3 linked regions of the Homo sapiens genome follow. The protein of the gene in region 3 interacts with the protein of the main gene of each other region in a pairwise test. Each region holds a gene or a part of one and is shown on either strand. Other genes may lie near its edges.

Region 1 (7,023 bases), on a different chromosome or scaffold from region 3:
TGCACCCCTCTGCTCATGCTGTCTCCCCTGGAATACATTCTTCCTTCCCCCAATCCAAATTCCACTCATCAAAGCCTTCCATGACTATGCTTTCTGCTTTGAATTCCATTATATTTAGTTATTTCTACAAAGTAATCACTGCCAAGTGTGAGCACTGCAAAGAGTTCCAAAGAATCCCACGAATCTTTATGTATAACTTGCTTAACATGTCTGCAGACTGAATGATCATTTCACACGCATATATATTATTTTTCAAATGTGTTGAGTTGTGACTTTATTTAGAAGTGTTATTAAATGTACACCAGCTTTTTGTCATGTATTTTCTTAATCAGTGGATACCTGCATAACTACAGGAGATGAACTGTCAAAAAATTTTATGTAAAAAAATGAGTACTCAGGTTGGGCATGGTGGCTCATGCCTGTAATCCCAGCACTTTGGGAGGCTGAGGTGGGCAGATTGCATGAGTCCAGGAGTTCAAGACCAGCCTGGGCAACATGGTGAAACCCTGTTTCTATAAAAAATACAATAATTAGCCAGGCTTGGTGGCGTATGCCTGTACTCCCAGCTACGCGGAAGGCTGAAACGGTAGGACTGCTTGAGCCCGGGAGGCAGAGGTTGTAGTGAGCCAAGATCACGCCATTGCATTCCAGCCTGGACAACAGAGTGAGACCCCATCTCAAAAAATAAATAAATAAAAATGAATGCTCATATTTCTAGTTAAAGGTGCAGACTAAAGACATAACATTAGTTCCACGCCTTCCTTAAGTCTATTGATGTAAGATTAAAGGACTTCTAAAAAGGCATAAATCCACTATAACAGAGAGTGGGAGAAGACACAGCAACAAAACTTTGAAGCTAAAAAGAAGATAGGTTAGTGATACCTGGGTAATCCAAATCCTAAACCAGCCGTAAAGAAAGTAAAGAAACAACCTGATTTTTATCACAGGACCTCAAAAAAGGAAATGGTGGCAACAAGGACCTCTGGAAATGGAAATGAACAAGGAGCTAAAAATTGCAAGGTGGTTCAATGTTTAAGAAACAGATTCCCGGATCCCCTCCCCTATGCTGTAAAGCTAGACGACTGCACCTCCCCCACTCCCGTGGAAGACTCCAGGCTTATTCTCTGGAGACCGTAAAATAGAGCGTCTTTGGATTGGGGACACCAAGCACAGTCTAAGGCAGGAATAATGTACTGAAAACGGGATAAATATGTAAAAATTTCCAAACCAAATGTTAAGAACCTCAGCCTTCTTTCCCTACTCAGCTCTCAGAAGCCAGCAGCCAGAAATACCCTCCCGGAATGAAATGAGAAGAGGCAGTTTTCTCCTGAGCAATGTTTTTCAAACTTTTTGACCAAAAGCCACAGTAAGGAATACATTTGATTTCATAACTAAAACCCACAAATAAATATAAATACATAACAGAAACAAAATTTCAGGAAAAAAACCACTCATCACTACTATGGGCAAGGCATTTTGATATCTACTGCTCTGTTTCACTTAAAAAAGAAATGTGGGCCAGGAGTGGTGGCTCATGCCTATAATCACAACACTTTGGGAGGCTGAGGCAGGAAGATCACTTGAGCCCAGGAGTTTGAGACCAGCCTGGGCAACATGGCAAAACTTTACCTCCACAAAAAATAAAAAAAAATAACTGGGTGTGGTGGCATGTGCCTGTAGCTGGGGGCTGAGGTGGGAGGATCACTTGAGCCTGGGAGGTTGAGGCTGCAGTGAGCTGTGATCGTACCACTGCACTCCAGTCTAGGTGACAGAGTGACATTCTGTCTCAAAAGAAATGCTCCTCATGACCACTAAATTTATTTTATTATCTCCTAATAGGTCTAGACCTGCAGTTTGAAAAACATAGCTCTAAACAATCTGACCAGTTCAAAAGGAAAAAAAAATATTTTAGACAGGGTCTCACTCTGTTGCCCACGATGGAGTGCAGTGGCACAATCACGTCTCATGGAGCCCCAACCTCCCAGGCTCACGAGATCTTCCCACCTAAGCCTGCAAAATAGCTAAGACTACAGGTGTACACTACTACACTCAACTAATTTTTTAAATTTTTTGTGAAGACAAAGTCTCACTATGTTGCTCAGGCTGGTCTTGAACTTCTAGACTCAAGCAGTCCTCCTGCCTCAGCGTCCCAAAGTGCTAGGATTACAGGTGTGAGCCTTGCCCAGCCTAATTTTTTAAATTTTTTCTAGACACGGGCTATGTTGCCCAGGCTAGTCTTGAACTCCTAGGCTCAAGTGATTCTCCTCCCTCAGCCTCCCAAAGTACTGAGATTATAGGGATGAGCAACAATGTCCACAAGGAAAAAAATTTTCAAGAAAAATTAGAAAATTGTTGAAGAAAAACAAGACATTTCATCCATAAAACAAGAACGGGATGCTAATAAGAAGAAAAGAAACAAAAGAAGTTGAAAATTAAAAATTATTTCTGGCCAAACACGGTGGCTCATGCCTATAATCCCAGCAATTTGGGAGGGTGAGGCGGGCAGATCACCTGAGGTCAGGAGCTCAAGACTAGCCTGACCAACATGGACAAACCCCGTCTCTACTAAAAATGCAAAATTAGCCAGCGTGGTGGCGCATGCCTGTAATCCCAGCTACTCAGGAGGCTGAGGCAGGAGAATCGCTTGAACACGGGAGGCGGAGGTTGCAGTGAGCCGAGATCACGCCATTGCACTCCAGCCTGGGCAACAAGAGCAAAACTCCACCTCAAAATAAATAAATAAATAAATAGTTTCTACAATACTACTGGAAAATGGGTTCTACCAAATTGAGCAAATAAATCAAAAAAGATGACATGGGGCCTTACACAAGAGGGAGTTAAAGGGAATGCCTAGAATGATCTCACAGAAAATGAAGTCCACAGGTACACAGGAGGCCCAGAGAACAACCAGTCCAGACTGGAGCAGATTAGAAGGCTCCAAGATTTCATTAAGAATCCTTAATAGGGCACTGTGGCTCATACCTGTAATTCCAACACTTTGGGAGGCCTAGGTGGGCGGATCACTTGAGCTCAGGAGCTCGAGACCAGCCTGTGCAACACAGCGAAACCCCGTCTCTACAAAAAATACAAAAACTTAGGCCAGGCGCGGTGGCTCACATCTGTAATCCCAGCACTCTGGGAGGCAGAGGCAGGTGGATCACAGGGTCAGGAGTTCGAGACCAGCCTGACCGATATGGTGAAACACCATCTCTACTAAAAATACAAAAATTAGGTGTGGTGGCACGCGCCTGTAATCCCAGCTATTCAGGAGGCTGAGGCAGGAGAATTGCTTGAACCTGGGAGGCAGAGGTTGCAGTGGGCTGAGATAGCGCCACTGCACTCCAGCCTGGGTGAGAGAGTGAGACTCCGTCTCAAAAAAAAAAAAAAAAAAAAAAAAAACAAGCCGCGCATGGTTGTGCATAGCTGTAGTCCCGGCTACTTTGGGGGCTGAGGCGGGAGGATCACTTGAGCCTGGTAGGTTGAGGCTGCAGTGACCTGAGATGCGCCACTGCATTCTAGCCTGGGTGACAGAGCAAGACTCTGTCTCAAAAAAAAAAAAAAAAAGGAATCCTTAATAGGACACTTAATTTGCCTGAATGTTTTGAGAGGATACATGTAACCTGGAGAGACTTTGGAATGCATTATTGATCATCCTAAATTAAGCAAATATTTTTAAAAAGAGAATTATTAACTCCAAGAAAAACAATGTTGTGCAGAAACAGAAAAATAATTATAAAATGCAAAATGGCTCAGCTGTGAAAAGCATTTAGTTATACTAATGTAACTATTGACTAATGATCTTACAAAATTATGATATTCATGATATATATGGAGAGGGTCACCCTATCCCCACCTCAGAAGACAATTGTGTGTGGTGGGGAGTAGGGGTGTGGGGTTAGGGCAGAAATCTTCATCTTTCATAATGAAAAGTCCATGGATAATGCCTAATAAAAAAAAACCATACATCTGTGTTATAGAGATATGGAGGTACAGTCCTAGAACATTACCAGCTGAAACAATTTAAAGTGTTGCCTCTGAAAAGCTGAACCTAGATGATGCAGGCCTCAAGAATTGCTATTTTTGTTACAAGGTTTATAGAACTACTTTGCCTTCTAACTCTGAAACTACATGCATGTATACCTTAAAAATCAAACAAATATATAATCAGAAACCATTGCCAGAAAACTTAATTTAGCACTTAGTTGTTCTCTAATTGTTTTATGTATAGTATACTGATCTTGAATCCCTAACTGAACAGAGTAGGACAGAATTCATATATACTTTTTATCTAGAAGAGTGATTCTCAATTGGGGGCCCTTTTGTCCCCACCAGACATTTGGCAAAGTCTGGAGACATTTTTGATGGTCACAACTGAAAGAGTGCTACTGGCACCTAATGGGTAGTACCCAGGAATTGATAAACATGCTAAAATGTACAAGATGGCCCTCCACAACAAAGAATTATCCAGTCCACGCCAGGTGTGGTGGCTCACACCTGTAAATCCCAACACTTTGAGAGGCTGAGGCAGGAGGATCACTTGAGCCCAGGAGTTTGAGACCAACTTGGGCAACATAGCAAGACCACATCTCTACCAAAAAAAAAAAAAAAAAAAAATTAGCCAGGCATGGTGCACACATCTGTACCCTAGCTGCTAGGGAGGTTAAGGTGGGAGGAAAGCTTGAGCCCAGGAGTTAGAAGCTGCAGTGAGCTAAGATGGTGTCACTGTACTCCAGCATGGGTGACAGAGTGAGACCCTGTCTCTAAAAAACCACTAAAACAAATCTCTTATTTAGTCCCTAAGGTGACTTTACCAACAAGAACACAAAGGTGGGCTGTGCGTGGTGGCTCACGCCTGTAATCCCAGCACTTTGGGAGGCTGAGATGGGCGAATCATTTGAGGTCAGGGGTTCGAGACCAGCCTGGTGGTACTGGGAGGCTGAGGCAGGAAAATCACTTGAACCCGAGGGGCGGAGGTTGCAGTAAGCTGAGATCACGCCACTGAACTCCAGCCTGGGCAACTGAGAGAGACTCCATCTCAAAAAAAAAAAAAAAGAAAGAAAAAGAAAGAATACAAAGGTGGTCAGATACATGATTTGCTAAAGAAAACAAAACAGAAAAAGTAATACAGGTGCTAATTCTGGACTTCTGTACCTCTCTTTATAGCTAAGAGGATCAAAAGCACAAATATGTCCCTCCACCCCCACTGAGAAAAAGCTATTTAGATAATTATGAAGCAGTTAACTGCTCAAAAAGTTTTAAAATAGATATTAGGAATAGGATTGAAACTGTTATAAAAATGGTTAACAGTGGTTGCTTAAAGGGATATAAGAACATTTTCTAAAGGAATGGTTAAACCACATTTACTCCAAGTGTTCTGCCAGCAAAATGTTAGGTAGCCATGAAATTTCAGGACCTATGCTACTTGCTACTATACCTTGATAGCCTCAATGGCATATTCCACTTGAAATAATCTTCCTTCGGGAGAAAAAGTATTCACGCCCCTATAATTTAAAAAAAAATTATTAATTATACTCATAAAAACTAGCCATGTAGACACTGAATTCAAGTTCCTTGACAACTAGCTCAGATAGCTACAGAATACGCACATTGTCATTATTCTCTACTTCGCCCACAACAATCTGTAGCATTTTTTTGTACATTAACAGTTTCTCAAGGCAATGGAACCTATATATAGAACACTTCTGCCTCACTCCCAGAAAGTCTTCCCAAATTGATGAAATGAGAGCAAATGACTTTTCTGCCTCAATCCTGAATCAACTTGGATCCATTCTGAATAGACTTACCAGTTCCTTTGGTAAGTTCATGCCTCAAAACTATCAGCCAATTTCCAAGAAAATGTGCATTTTTCCTTATCCTCTTCCCATAACATGCATATGACGTTAATACTTGGGGTTATCACTCTTCTTTCCATTCTCAATGCCCTCATTACCTTTCACCTAACGTTTGTAATAGTCTCCTAACAGGTATTGACTCGTGGAGCAAGTAGGAAGAGTTTTCCCCCTAATTCAGACAATCTCTATAAAACACAGTTATTACTTTTTTTTTTTTTTTTTTGAGACAGAGTCTCGCTCTGTCGCTCAGGCGGGTGCGATCTCAGCTCACTGTAACCTCCGCCTCCTGGGTTCAAGCAGTTATCCTGCCTCAGCCTCCCCAGCAGCTAAGACTACAGGTGCATGCCACCACGCCCGGCTAATTTTTGTATTTTTAGTAGAGATGGGGTTTCACCATATTGGCCAGGCTGGTCTTGAACTCCTGACCTCGTGATCCACCCGCCTCGGCCTCCCAAAATGCTGGGATTACAGGCATGAACCACTGTGCCTGGGCCTAATTATTACTTTTTACTAAAAGTTAGTCACAGGTACATTTCTCTACTTATTTGTATGAATTACTATTGTTATCTTAACAGACTGAGATCCATGTAGTTCCTAATTCTAACCTAGTTCATTCACTCAATATTTATATAACTTACATGTCAGACTGCTTTCCTCTCTAAACACTTCCCCTTAACACTTAACACTTTCCACCTTTCCTTGCTCAAGTGTGCTGGAAATCCCTACGGAGAAGAGGCACCAATCATGGTCTCAGCTATAAAAGCTTTGAGCACACAATGGACACAAAAAATATGTGAACAAATGAATGAGATGGTTGCAATCCGTGGTTTATGGAGTCCAGACTTTACAACAGGTAACATGTCATATAGTAGTGCTTTTGGCCTGGCGTGGTGGCTCACGCCTGTAATCCCAGCACGTTGGGAGGATGAGGCAGGCGGATCACCTGAGGTCAGGAGTTCGAGACCAGGCTGGCCAACAAGGTGAAACCCCGTCTCTACTAAAAACACATAAATTAGCTGGGCGTGGTGGCAGGTGCCTGTAATCCCAGCTACTTGAGAGGCTAAGGCATGAGAATCACTTGAACCCAGGAGGCGGAGGTTGCAGTGAGCCGAGATGGTGCCACTACACTCCAGCCTGGGAGAGTGCTAAGCACAAGTTACTTCCAAATCTC
Region 2 (6,836 bases), on a different chromosome or scaffold from region 3:
AACTGCATCTCCATCTCATTGCTTCCTGCGCTTTCTTCCTTTCTGTCTGTTTAACCTCATTTTCTTTCTCCTTTGATCTCATTGCCTTTCTTTCCTCTCCCCCTTTTCTACCTTCTCTCTTATATCCATGCCTTCTCTCTACCCTCTTCTCACATTCCTTCCTCTCAGACTTCCTGCTCTGCTATTAATTCTAGCCAGCGGCCTGACTCCATAGGCTGGTCATACATAAGCCAGATCTCAATTGCTTTGCTCATGAAGCTGACATAGCAGATCCCCCGTCACCAAGTTGCGTGCACACGCATGCATACACACACACACGCATGCGTGCAAGCACACACACACACACACACACACACACACACACACACTTCTCTTTCTTGCTTTGTATTATAGATGAGATTCTACTTAGGGGTAGGATTCATTATTCATGAAGGGTGTGGTCAGGTGAGGCATGTTGGAAGCAAAATGCGAATTAGGTAAGGTGGAGTAGAAGAGAGCTATTGGCAAGAGAAAAATTACTTGAGCAGTGTGTGAGTGGGTGGGTGAGAAAGTGGGCAGGGTGGACTCAGAGGTTGGGAAGCTGCTCCTGAGAGGAGAAGCCTCTGTCTCTACACAGGAACCTACCTGACACATGAGGCAAAAGGCTCCGACGATGCTCCAGACGCGGACACGGCCATCATCAATGCAGAAGGCGGGCAGTCAGGAGGGGACGACAAGAAGGAATATTTCATCTAGAGGCGCCTGCCCACTTCCTGCGCCCCCCAGGGGCCCTGTGGGGACTGCTGGGGCCGTCACCAACCCGGACTTGTACAGAGCAACCGCAGGGCCGCCCCTCCCGCTTGCTCCCCAGCCCACCCACCCCCCTGTACAGAATGTCTGCTTTGGGTGCGGTTTTGTACTCGGTTTGGAATGGGGAGGGAGGAGGGCGGGGGGAGGGGAGGGTTGCCCTCAGCCCTTTCCGTGGCTTCTCTGCATTTGGGTTATTATTATTTTTGTAACAATCCCAAATCAAATCTGTCTCCAGGCTGGAGAGGCAGGAGCCCTGGGGTGAGAAAAGCAAAAAACAAACAAAAAACAAAACCCTGGAGTGTTAGGAGGAGAGTGAAGGTAGAGGGGTGAGGAAGGGTAAGGGGCAGGGCTGGTTTCAGCTGGGGGCTCTCACCAGCCCTCCTTTCAGCCTCTACAACAGAGCAGCTTCCCAGACTTCTCCAGGAACCCAGAAACGGGATGGTTGTCGGCAAAGGTTGGGAGTGGCTTTTCCTCTGGTAGCCACACACCTGAGCACTACGGACAGGGAGGCAGGTGCCACCTTGACACCTCTCTTCCATAGCAATGGGAAAGTGATGAGTGCGGGAGTCCTGAGGAGATGTGGCCTGCAGACAACATGCAGCCATGCAGGGACCCAGGACTGTAACCTGGGGAGGACGCGGGTCCCTGCAAGGAAGAGTAGATTTGGAGAGGAAGGATGGAGGTGGACTCTCACCCCATTCCCCCCGGAAATGAACAAAGCCGGGCCCTTTCCATAGGAACTGCCCTTGGAGATAGCAGAGTGTGGCTGCCCCTCCTTGCTCCAGCAGCAGTGGGAGAGGCACTGCTCTGGGGCCTGAACTGCCTCTGCTTCCCCCCCTGAGGGGCCCCTCACTCTTACCCAAGACTCTGGATTGTTGCACGGCAACCACTCCTCCCATGGCATTGCTCAGCAACTACTTCTCCCTTCCCGGCCACCCTGTGCCCCCTTCCTGGTCCCAACGCCAGCCCTTCATCCTTCCTCCCTCAGCAGCCAGGCAGACATAACAACAAAACTACTAAAAGGAGCTTCACTGCAGTGAGCTGTTTCCTGCCCAAACTAAGGGAATAATGTGAACTGTGTGCATGTGTGTGGTGTGTATGCATGTGTGCATGTGTGTGTGTGTGTGTGCATGTGTGTGAGTGAGTGAGAGGCAGAGCGAGGAACTGAGGAGGAGGGCTAAGAGCCAGGGGTCCTGGGCAAGTGGACAGGGCTGTGGGACATGTTGGGGAGGCTTTGGGAATGGGGTATTCCTAGTCAGGGTTCACACCTCACCTGGGATGTTGTTCCATGCTGGTATTTCCTCTGCCACCCCCAATGCCCATCGGTCTTGGAGAAAGGAGTCCCCGGGTGTGTGTTTGCCCAGCTGTCCATTCTATCTCTCCCTTAAACACAGAGCATTCAGCCCTTCCCTGGATTTCCCTCCTCTGAGCCATGGAGTCAGTGCCACAGCCTTTGCTATGCACCTCTCAGGCCTCTCCTTGGCGTTGACCCTGGAAAGACCTACCACCACCTATTTTTTCCCATAGTCTGTACCCAGTGAGTTGAAGGCTGGGTCCCCACCCTTCCTTTTGATTTCCTGTCTTCCTTCTCGTGGCCCCAGCTGGTTGCTGTGGAGATGAGGTTCCTGGTCCTCCCTGTCCTGGCTGGACTGCCCCGCCTCAGATCCAGGATGCCCTTGGCATCGCTCCCACCCTCCCCCAGCTTTTCCTCCCTGGTCTGACAATGGGCATGCAAAAAGGGGCAGCTGCAATCTAGCAGGCCTGCCCACCCCCTTCAGTTCAGGTAATACAGTTGTGAATCTTCCAGCCGCTGGTTAGGGCCTTGGGCACCACAGGCAGCCCCTCACCTAAGCCGGGGCCTACTCCTCTTACAACAGCAAGAGAGCCCTGGGGCCCCAGGCCTGTTGAGCTTCTTGTCTCCCAGCACCCGCTTTTGGGAAAATGACTTTTCCTCTTCAAGCTGAACCACTCTGTCCATATTACACAGAAGCCATATTTGTACGGGGGGGTGGGAGGGAGAGGGGCTGTTGTGCTGTGTGTGTCTGTCCAGGGGTGGGGGGGTGGGGGAAGGGAGCAGGGAGGGGACCGTGTATCTTTATAATCTTTCTAACTCTCCTGTGCTAATCTCAGAGGGGTCACCCTCAATATATCTGGATTATCCGTGTCATTCAGCTGCCTCCTTTCTGGTCCTCTTGCTGCTGCTGGGATGTGTGTATGTGAGGGTCTTCTTCCCATACCCCTTGCACCTGGTGCCTGGTGCCTCAAAAGGTGGTGTGTCCCTTGCCAGGCCACTCTCAAGAATATCTATGTACAGCAACAATATAACTCTACAAGGGAGAGAAGTGTGTTCACTTCCTTTTGCTAAGCCCTTCCTTTCCAGAGAGTGTCTTGGGGGGCATCTGACTGCTTCCCCCCACCCTCTGCCAGGCATTGCTGGAGAATGTTAAGACGGCGATGGAGATGCCATCAACCCCACCCTGCAGAGCATCACCAGACACCACCAGACCAAATTCACTTTCCAGCCCCTTCATGTTGAACCTGAAACTTGAGCTAGTGTCTTGGGAGAAAAGGGGGAAATCTCTACGAGGTACCCATCCTTCTGCACCTTAGGTCTGAGGTGCTTGGCCCCCTAGGAAGCCCTACATGAATGGGACAGAAGGTCCTTAACAACACTGGAGATGAAGCAGCCGATGCTGTTTTGGACAAATGAAACAGCGTCCCCTAACCAGCCCTTTCTATCTCATTGTTCTGACTTGGACACGCCATGGCTCACCGCTCCCAAAGTCCCCACTATGTCTCCCTAGCTGAGGAAATAAAAGCAGAGAGGGGTGATGAAACAGTGACGATCCTGGGGAAACAGCTGAGGAGGGGAGGGAGGGGGAAGAAGCCACTAAAAAAGTGAAATGTGCTTGGGAGAATCGGCCTGCCTGCAGGGTAGATGCCCTTTCTCTCTGCTGGCCAGCTCTGCCCCTCAGTGAGAAACTTTACATATTGCTAAGATGCCTGGCCAATGAAACAGTTCCAGAGACTTTATGTCCCCCAGTAGAAATATGAATAGAAATCACCCTGTGGGCAATGGTCCCATTTTAAAATATGCTGTCCCATTGTCCCCTAGAGCCTACTTTAACTTGTCAGACCATGTATTCCACTTCATATGCAAGAGGCATGCACTGAGCCCATAGGTGGCTAGGCAAACACCCAATAGCTCCCTGAAATGGCTTCATTATGCAGCCTCGACAGCCACCCCAACCCTCCCACTCTCACACTGAAACACCCAGACCTAGAGATAGCTAGACACACCCAGACACCCGCCAAGCCCCTCACATACAGATATGTGCACAATGATACACAGCAAACGTACACAGAGTTCAGTACACACAAAGAGCTCACGCCCACGTGCACACACCCCTCAGTTGGGACAGAGTTGACCACCACCACCTTTCTCCCAAACACATGGCTTTTGAACTGCCTTTCCTTGGATCCAGTTCAAGGGGATGGAGGAGCAGTGAGAGTCAGCCGCCCTTCCACTCCAATTTCCCAGCACCTCCCTTATCTCTGCCTCACAAGTCACCCAGCCCCCCTCTCTTCCTTCCTTGTGCTTGAAGAATCTCTCCTTGCTGGAAAGCCCCCTGTTTTCTCAATCTCCCTTTCCACTTCGGTAAAATCTCTACTTGCTGGAAAGCCCCCTGTTTTCTCAATCTCCCTTTCCACTTCGGTAAAATGCCCACTTTCTGGTCCCCACCTTTTTCCTGAGTGTAGTCCCAACCAGCCAAATCCAACCTCAAAACAGGAAGACCCAAGGCCAGTGACCCCCATAGGCCTGAGGCTTGTGCAGGCAGTGGGCGTGGGGTAAGGCTTCCTGATGCCCCCTGTCCCTGCCCAGAACCTGATGGCCCTCATTAGTCCTTGGCTCTTATCTTGGAAGCACAGGCGCTGACAGCCGTCCCAGCCCTTCTGTCTGCGGGCCTGAACCAAACGGTGCCATGGGGAACTGTCTGCACAGGGTGAGTATGGGGCCAGGCCCCAGAGTCCCTTATCCCTATGCCCCTCATTTCCCCTGCTGTTTGCCCCTCAGTCTTTATATCTCTTCCTTTTCCTCCTCATCTTTTCTCCCTTCCTGCTTTTTTCCTCTTCCTTCAAAGTCTTTTTCCTTCTCTCCTTCCTATGCTAGCCTCCTAGCTCCCTCTTGTGTCCCTCCCTTTGCCTTTGAGTCAGTTCCATCCTGGTCTCTTGGTGCCTTTTCCTTCTGACCTTGCACTGCTCCTCCAGCCCCAGCTGCCCTGGCTTCCCCAGGACTGTTCCTGCTCCGGCTCTTCAGGCTCCCTGCTTTGTCCTTTTCCACTGTCCGCACTGCATCTGACTCCTGCAGAGACCTTGTTCTCCCACCCGACCTTCCTCTCTGTCCTCCCCTCCCACCTGCCCCTCAATTCCCAGGAGACTCTTCCGGTGTAACTCTGATGGCCTCCTCTGGGTATGTCCTCCAGGCGGAGCTCTCCCCCTCAACTGAGAACTCAAGTCAGCTGGACTTCGAAGATGTATGGAATTCTTCCTATGGTGTGAATGATTCCTTCCCAGATGGAGACTATGGTGCCAACCTGGAAGCAGCTGCCCCCTGCCACTCCTGTAACCTGCTGGATGACTCTGCACTGCCCTTCTTCATCCTCACCAGTGTCCTGGGTATCCTAGCTAGCAGCACTGTCCTCTTCATGCTTTTCAGACCTCTCTTCCGCTGGCAGCTCTGCCCTGGCTGGCCTGTCCTGGCACAGCTGGCTGTGGGCAGTGCCCTCTTCAGCATTGTGGTGCCCGTCTTGGCCCCAGGGCTAGGTAGCACTCGCAGCTCTGCCCTGTGTAGCCTGGGCTACTGTGTCTGGTATGGCTCAGCCTTTGCCCAGGCTTTGCTGCTAGGGTGCCATGCCTCCCTGGGCCACAGACTGGGTGCAGGCCAGGTCCCAGGCCTCACCCTGGGGCTCACTGTGGGAATTTGGGGAGTGGCTGCCCTACTGACACTGCCTGTCACCCTGGCCAGTGGTGCTTCTGGTGGACTCTGCACCCTGATATACAGCACGGAGCTGAAGGCTTTGCAGGCCACACACACTGTAGCCTGTCTTGCCATCTTTGTCTTGTTGCCATTGGGTTTGTTTGGAGCCAAGGGGCTGAAGAAGGCATTGGGTATGGGGCCAGGCCCCTGGATGAATATCCTGTGGGCCTGGTTTATTTTCTGGTGGCCTCATGGGGTGGTTCTAGGACTGGATTTCCTGGTGAGGTCCAAGCTGTTGCTGTTGTCAACATGTCTGGCCCAGCAGGCTCTGGACCTGCTGCTGAACCTGGCAGAAGCCCTGGCAATTTTGCACTGTGTGGCTACGCCCCTGCTCCTCGCCCTATTCTGCCACCAGGCCACCCGCACCCTCTTGCCCTCTCTGCCCCTCCCTGAAGGATGGTCTTCTCATCTGGACACCCTTGGAAGCAAATCCTAGTTCTCTTCCCACCTGTCAACCTGAATTAAAGTCTACACTGCCTTTGTGAAGCGGGTGGTTTCTTATTTTGTCTGGGGAGAAGAAGGAGAATGGAGAGAGAGACATTTTTATGTCAGACTTTCTTGCCAGTGTCTGCTTCTATAGCTGGCTTGGGAAGAAGGTGAATGATGAATAAATACCCTCAGGGTACACAGATGTTCTCTTGAGGTGTGGGGTCACGGCCATCTCAAGGGAGAAGAGAAGAGGAACCAGAGCATGAGGGGAGTCATTAAACCAAAAAAAACAGAAGGGATGGCTTAGCTGGAAAAAAAGCTGTTCTGGGAAGCAAATGGAATAGGAACTCAAACTGAGAGATAAACAGTGAAGAGTGATGACAAAGCCCAGAGCAATACCACCTCCCCCTGTCCAACCTGCCCAGCCTCTGTCTTCTGTCTCCTCTCTGGCTTTGTTTAGTGATTAGGACAGTGGTGGGGAAGGTGAAAGAAGCATCCCAGGGGATGTTACTCAGTTCAGGGAACATATCAAGGTAATTTAAAAAGCCACTTCCTGGGAGTCATCTCTCCCAGGTTCCTC
Region 3 (7,047 bases):
TGATGGTGACAATCAGTGTGACACTGCTCACATGACTGAACAACCGAGAAGAGCCCGACTGTCTACTGAACAACGGGAAGAGCCCGACTGTCAATGACGGAGCTCTGTTAAATATAGTTAAGGCTATTTTGTTGAATGAATGAAGCCAGACAGGAAAGAGGACAGTATCTTTAATCCATTTATAGAAGTTAAAGACAGGCTTATTTAATCTCTATGAAGACAGAGTGGCCCTTACCTCTGGGTGGAGCAAAAGGCACCTTCTGAAGTGATAGGGATGTTCCTTATCATCTTGATCCGGAGTGGTAGTTACATGCATGTGTGCATATCAAAACTCACCAAGCTGTACCACTAAGTGTGTTCTTCCTCAATAAAAATAATAAAGAACTACACTTATAAAGAATTTTTTAATAATATAGGAAAATGTCTACACTATAATCTTTAGCTAAAAAAAAAAAAAAAAGAAGCCGCCTACAGAATGGTATATGCATGAGAACAATTAATCGAAAAGTGCATGGGAAAAGTCAGGATTGAAACATCATGTTTTAAAAGACATTGTTTTGATACTGTGAGAATGTACCTAAGTTTTTCCTTTTTTCTGTTTTTCCCAATTTTATACAATGAGCATGTGTTGGTTTTATAATTAGACATTTTGTTTGTTTGGTTTGGTTTTGAGACACAGCTTGCTGTCACCCAGGTTGGAGTGCAATGGCCCAATCTTGGTTCACTGCAACCTCCATCTCCTGGGTTCAAGAGATTCTCCCACTTCAGCCTCCTGAGTAGCTGGGACTATAGGGGCGCACCACCACATCCAGCTAATTTTGTGTATTTTTAGTAGAGATGGGGTTTCACCATGCTGGCCAGGTTGGTCTCAAACTCCTGACCTCAAGTTATCCACTCGCCTTGGCTTCCCAAAGTGCTGGGATTATAGGCATGAGCCACCGCACTTGGCCTAGACATTTGTTTTTAAAAATAAAAGATTCATTTGCTCTTTTTACAGCCCGTCTCACTGTTGACTGATATTGACCAGGAGTCAACTCAGGCCCCAGGGATTTTCACAACAGCTGCTGTATGGCAGGGTTTCTGCTCACTGTGCTCATGTAGTTGGCCCTTGCACCCAAAGTGAATAATTAACATTCTCCCCATCCTGTTGACGATGCTCTGAAAATATGGTCCAGAAATGGTGTGAGCAAGGAGACAGCAAAGCAATGCTTGGAACATAGGTGCAGTGACTAGACATGGGGCAGCTGTTTAAAGACAAAAAGGCCCCAAAAAGGAGGGATGGCACGAAACACCCTCCAATATGGGCATGGAGTCTAGAGTGACAAAGTGATCAAAAGTTCATTTCCTATGGGGTGTCCGAATGTACTTAATAATAAAAAGAGAACAAGAGCCATGCAAACTGAGAGGGACAAAGTAGAAAGAGTAGCAGACACCAAGCAACTAAGTCACAGCATGATAAGCTGCTAGCTTGTTGTCATTATTGTATCCAGAACAACATTTCATTTAAATGCTGAAGAATTTCCCATGGGTCCCCACTTTCTTGTGAATCCTTGGGCTGAACCCCCCTGTCCTGAGTGGTTACTAGAACACACCTCTGGACCAGAAACACAAAAGTGGAGTAACGCACACTGCAAAGCTGTGCTTCCTTGTTTCAGCCTGTGAATCCTCACCTTGTTTCCCATCTAGCCTATATTTTTCAAACTAACTTGGCCATAGAATCATGTAGTATTTAGGGTGGAAGCTGCCCCAGGTCTAGCACGTCATTTAACAGATGAGGAAATGGAAGCTTGGGCAGTGGAAGTATCTTGCCGAGGTCACACAGCAAGTCAGCAGCACAGCGTGTGTGACTCCGAGCCTGCTCCGCTAGCCCACATTGCCCTCTGGGGGTGAGTATGTCTTCACATCCTCCAATACCCTAATGACAGACAAACAGAACATGGCAAAGCCTCAGCTCTGCATGGTGAAAGTAAGAACCAGCAATTGCCACAAACAGAAATACAGTGTTGGTCCGGCAGCCTCCGGGGGTTCTGCACAAGTGGATTACCAGTGAATACAAGGCTATCTATCTTTCGAAAAACCAAAGTTGTATTTATGCTATCTATTTTCTATAAAATTTTATATTAATTTATTTGTTACCTATTTTTGAACTCTTTCAAAAGCACACTTTATATTTCCCTGCTTAAACAGTCCCCCGAGGGTGGGTGCCCAAAAGGCTCTACACTTGTTATCATTCCCTCTCCACCACAGGCATATTGAGTAAGTTTGTATTTGGGTTTTTTTAAAACCTCCACTCTACAGTTAAGAAAACTAAGGCACAGAGCTTCAATAATTTGGTCAGAGCCAAGTAGCAGTAATGAAGCTGGAGGTTAAACCCAGCAGCATGACTGCAGTTCTTAATCAATGCCTTTTGAATTGCACATATGGGATGAACTAGAACATTTTCTCGATGATTCGCTGTCCTTGTTATGATTATGTTACTGAGCTCTGTTGTAGCACAGACATATGTCCCTATATGGGGCGGGGGTGGGGGTGTCTTGATCGCTGGGCTATTTCTATACTGTTCTGGCTTTTCCCAAGCAGTCATTTCTTTCTATTCTCCAAGCACCAGCAATTAGCTTTACCTTTTCAGCTTCTAGTTTGCTGAAACTAATCTGCTATAGACAGAGACTCCGGTGAACCAATTTTATTAGGATTTGATCAAATAAACTCTCTCTGACAAAGGACTGCTGAAAGAGTAACTAAGAGTTTGATGTTTACTGAGTGCATAGTATGTGCTAGATGCTGGCCGTGGATGCCTCATAGAATCCTCCCAACAACTCATGAAATGACTACTGTCATTCAGCCCAATACCCAGACGAGAAAGCTGAGGGTAAGACAGGTTTCAAGCTTGGCAGTCTGACTACAGAGGCCACTGGCTTAGCCCCTGGGTTAGTCTGCCTCTGTAGGATTGGGGGCACGTAATTTTGCTGTTTGGGGTCTCATTTGCCTTCTTAGAGATCACAAGCCAAAGCTTTTTATTCTAGAGCCAAGGTCACGGAAGCCCAGAGGGCATCTTGTGGCTCGGGAGTAGCTCTCTGCTGTCTTCTCAGCTCTGCTGACAATACTTGAGATTTTCAGATGTCACCAACCGCCAAGAGAGCTTGATATGACTGTATATAGTATAGTCATAAAGAACCTGAACTTGACCATATACTTATGTCATGTGGAAAATTTCTCATAGCTTCAGATAGATTATATCTGGAGTGAAGAATCCTGCCACCTATGTATCTGGCATAGTGTGAGTCCTCATAAATGCTTACTGGTTTGAAGGGCAACAAAATAGTGAACAGAGTGAAAATCCCCACTAAGATCCTGGGTCCAGAAAAAGATGGGAAACCTGTTTAGCTCACCCGTGAGCCCATAGTTAAAACTCTTTAGACAACAGGTTGTTTCCGTTTACAGAGAACAATAATATTGGGTGGTGAGCATCTGTGTGGGGGTTGGGGTGGGATAGGGGATACGGGGAGAGTGGAGAAAAAGGGGACACAGGGTTAATGTGAAGTCCAGGATCCCCCTCTACATTTAAAGTTGGTTTAAGTTGGCTTTAATTAATAGCAACTCTTAAGATAATCAGAATTTTCTTAACCTTTTAGCCTTACTGTTGAAAAGCCCTGTGATCTTGTACAAATCATTTGCTTCTTGGATAGTAATTTCTTTTACTAAAATGTGGGCTTTTGACTAGATGAATGTAAATGTTCTTCTAGCTCTGATATCCTTTATTCTTTATATTTTCTAACAGATTCTGTGTAGTGGGATGAGCAGAGAACAAAAACAAAATAATCCAGTGAGAAAAGCCCGTAAATAAACCTTCAGACCAGAGATCTATTCTCTAGCTTATTTTAAGCTCAACTTAAAAAGAAGAACTGTTCTCTGATTCTTTTCGCCTTCAATACACTTAATGATTTAACTCCACCCTCCTTCAAAAGAAACAGCATTTCCTACTTTTATACTGTCTATATGATTGATTTGCACAGCTCATCTGGCCAGAAGAGCTGAGACATCCGTTCCCCTACAAGAAACTCTCCCCGGTAAGTAACCTCTCAGCTGCTTGGCCTGTTAGTTAGCTTCTGAGATGAGTAAAAGACTTTACAGGAAACCCATAGAAGACATTTGGCAAACACCAAGTGCTCATACAATTATCTTAAAATATAATCTTTAAGATAAGGAAAGGGTCACAGTTTGGAATGAGTTTCAGACGGTTATAACATCAAAGATACAAAACATGATTGTGAGTGAAAGACTTTAAAGGGAGCAATAGTATTTTAATAACTAACAATCCTTACCTCTCAAAAGAAAGATTTGCAGAGAGATGAGTCTTAGCTGAAATCTTGAAATCTTATCTTCTGCTAAGGAGAACTAAACCCTCTCCAGTGAGATGCCTTCTGAATATGTGCCCACAAGAAGTTGTGTCTAAGTCTGGTTCTCTTTTTTCTTTTTCCTCCAGACAAGAGGGAAGCCTAAAAATGGTCAAAATTAATATTAAATTACAAACGCCAAATAAAATTTTCCTCTAATATATCAGTTTCATGGCACAGTTAGTATATAATTCTTTATGGTTCAAAATTAAAAATGAGCTTTTCTAGGGGCTTCTCTCAGCTGCCTAGTCTAAGGTGCAGGGAGTTTGAGACTCACAGGGTTTAATAAGAGAAAATTCTCAGCTAGAGCAGCTGAACTTAAATAGACTAGGCAAGACAGCTGGTTATAAGACTAAACTACCCAGAATGCATGACATTCATCTGTGGTGGCAGACGAAACATTTTTTATTATATTATTTCTTGGGTATGTATGACAACTCTTAATTGTGGCAACTCAGAAACTACAAACACAAACTTCACAGAAAATGTGAGGATTTTACAATTGGCTGTTGTCATCTATGACCTTCCCTGGGACTTGGGCACCCGGCCATTTCACTCTGACTACATCATGTCACCAAACATCTGATGGTCTTGCCTTTTAATTCTCTTTTCGAGGACTGAGAGGGAGGGTAGCATGGTAGTTAAGAGTGCAGGCTTCCCGCATTCAAAATCGGTTGCTTACTAGCTGTGTGGCTTTGAGCAAGTTACTCACCCTCTCTGTGCTTCAAGGTCCTTGTCTGCAAAATGTGAAAAATATTTCCTGCCTCATAAGGTTGCCCTAAGGATTAAATGAATGAATGGGTATGATGCTTAGAACAGTGATTGGCATCCAGTATGTGCCCTCGAGGCCTCTTAATTATTACTGGCTTGCTCATAGTGCATGTTCTTTGTGGGCTAACTCTAGCGTCAATAAAAATGTTAAGACTGAGTTGCAGCCGGGCATGGTGGCTCATGCCTGTAATCCCAGCATTCTAGGAGGCTGAGGCAGGAGGATCGCTTGAGCCCAGGAGTTCGAGACCAGCCTGGGCAACATAGTGTGATCTTGTATCTATAAAAATAAACAAAATTAGCTTGGTGTGGTGGCGCCTGTAGTCCCCAGCCACTTGGAGGGGTGAGGTGAGAGGATTGCTTGAGCCCGGGATGGTCCAGGCTGCAGTGAGCCATGATCGTGCCACTGCACTCCAGCCTGGGCGACAGAGTGAGACCCTGTCTCACAACAACAACAACAACAACAAAAAGGCTGAGCTGCACCATGCTTGACCCAGTTTCTTAAAATTGTTGTCAAAGCTTCATTCACTCCATGGTGCTATAGAGCACAAGATTTTATTTGGTGAGATGGTGCTTTCATGAATTCCCCCAACAGAGCCAAGCTCTCCATCTAGTGGACAGGGAAGCTAGCAGCAAACCTTCCCTTCACTACAAAACTTCATTGCTTGGCCAAAAAGAGAGTTAATTCAATGTAGACATCTATGTAGGCAATTAAAAACCTATTGATGTATAAAACAGTTTGCATTCATGGAGGGCAACTAAATACATTCTAGGACTTTATAAAAGATCACTTTTTATTTATGCACAGGGTGGAACAAGATGGATTATCAAGTGTCAAGTCCAATCTATGACATCAATTATTATACATCGGAGCCCTGCCAAAAAATCAATGTGAAGCAAATCGCAGCCCGCCTCCTGCCTCCGCTCTACTCACTGGTGTTCATCTTTGGTTTTGTGGGCAACATGCTGGTCATCCTCATCCTGATAAACTGCAAAAGGCTGAAGAGCATGACTGACATCTACCTGCTCAACCTGGCCATCTCTGACCTGTTTTTCCTTCTTACTGTCCCCTTCTGGGCTCACTATGCTGCCGCCCAGTGGGACTTTGGAAATACAATGTGTCAACTCTTGACAGGGCTCTATTTTATAGGCTTCTTCTCTGGAATCTTCTTCATCATCCTCCTGACAATCGATAGGTACCTGGCTGTCGTCCATGCTGTGTTTGCTTTAAAAGCCAGGACGGTCACCTTTGGGGTGGTGACAAGTGTGATCACTTGGGTGGTGGCTGTGTTTGCGTCTCTCCCAGGAATCATCTTTACCAGATCTCAAAAAGAAGGTCTTCATTACACCTGCAGCTCTCATTTTCCATACAGTCAGTATCAATTCTGGAAGAATTTCCAGACATTAAAGATAGTCATCTTGGGGCTGGTCCTGCCGCTGCTTGTCATGGTCATCTGCTACTCGGGAATCCTAAAAACTCTGCTTCGGTGTCGAAATGAGAAGAAGAGGCACAGGGCTGTGAGGCTTATCTTCACCATCATGATTGTTTATTTTCTCTTCTGGGCTCCCTACAACATTGTCCTTCTCCTGAACACCTTCCAGGAATTCTTTGGCCTGAATAATTGCAGTAGCTCTAACAGGTTGGACCAAGCTATGCAGGTGACAGAGACTCTTGGGATGACGCACTGCTGCATCAACCCCATCATCTATGCCTTTGTCGGGGAGAAGTTCAGAAACTACCTCTTAGTCTTCTTCCAAAAGCACATTGCCAAACGCTTCTGCAAATGCTGTTCTATTTTCCAGCAAGAGGCTCCCGAGCGAGCAAGCTCAGTTTACACCCGATCCACTGGGGAGCAGGAAATATCTGTGGGCTTGTGACACGGAC

Evidence for each region.
Region 1: the proteins of CCR5 (region 3) and PSMA5 interact in a two-hybrid assay, tested with the Homo sapiens proteins (one study listed by BioGRID).
Region 2: the proteins of CCR5 (region 3) and ACKR1 interact in binary tests that used the Homo sapiens proteins (3 or more experiments, as listed by UniProt).

What each region holds. Positions count from the first base shown.
Region 1 is NC_000001.11:109,416,426-109,423,448, forward strand, and holds part of PSMA5 (proteasome subunit alpha type-5), read right to left. Parts: intron 5,502-7,023; coding exon 5,435-5,501; intron 1-5,434. UniProt on the Homo sapiens protein: Component of the 20S core proteasome complex involved in the proteolytic degradation of most intracellular proteins. This complex plays numerous essential roles within the cell by associating with different regulatory particles.
Region 2 is NC_000001.11:159,200,188-159,207,023, forward strand, and holds ACKR1 (atypical chemokine receptor 1), read left to right. Parts: upstream 1-4,687; 5' UTR 4,688-4,772; coding exon 4,773-4,793; intron 4,794-5,223; exon of another isoform or gene 5,224-5,246; coding exon of another isoform or gene 5,247-5,273; coding exon 5,274-6,263; 3' UTR 6,264-6,313; downstream 6,314-6,836. Other genes in the region: CADM3 (cell adhesion molecule 3), read left to right, coding at 617-735. UniProt on the Homo sapiens protein: Atypical chemokine receptor that controls chemokine levels and localization via high-affinity chemokine binding that is uncoupled from classic ligand-driven signal transduction cascades, resulting instead in chemokine sequestration, degradation, or transcytosis.
Region 3 is NC_000003.12:46,366,922-46,373,968, forward strand, and holds the start of CCR5 (C-C chemokine receptor type 5), read left to right. Parts: upstream 1-4,024; 5' UTR 4,025-4,067; intron 4,068-4,322; exon of another isoform or gene 4,323-4,496; intron 4,497-5,970; 5' UTR 5,971-5,981; coding exon 5,982-7,040; 3' UTR 7,041-7,047. UniProt on the Homo sapiens protein: Receptor for a number of inflammatory CC-chemokines including CCL3/MIP-1-alpha, CCL4/MIP-1-beta and RANTES and subsequently transduces a signal by increasing the intracellular calcium ion level.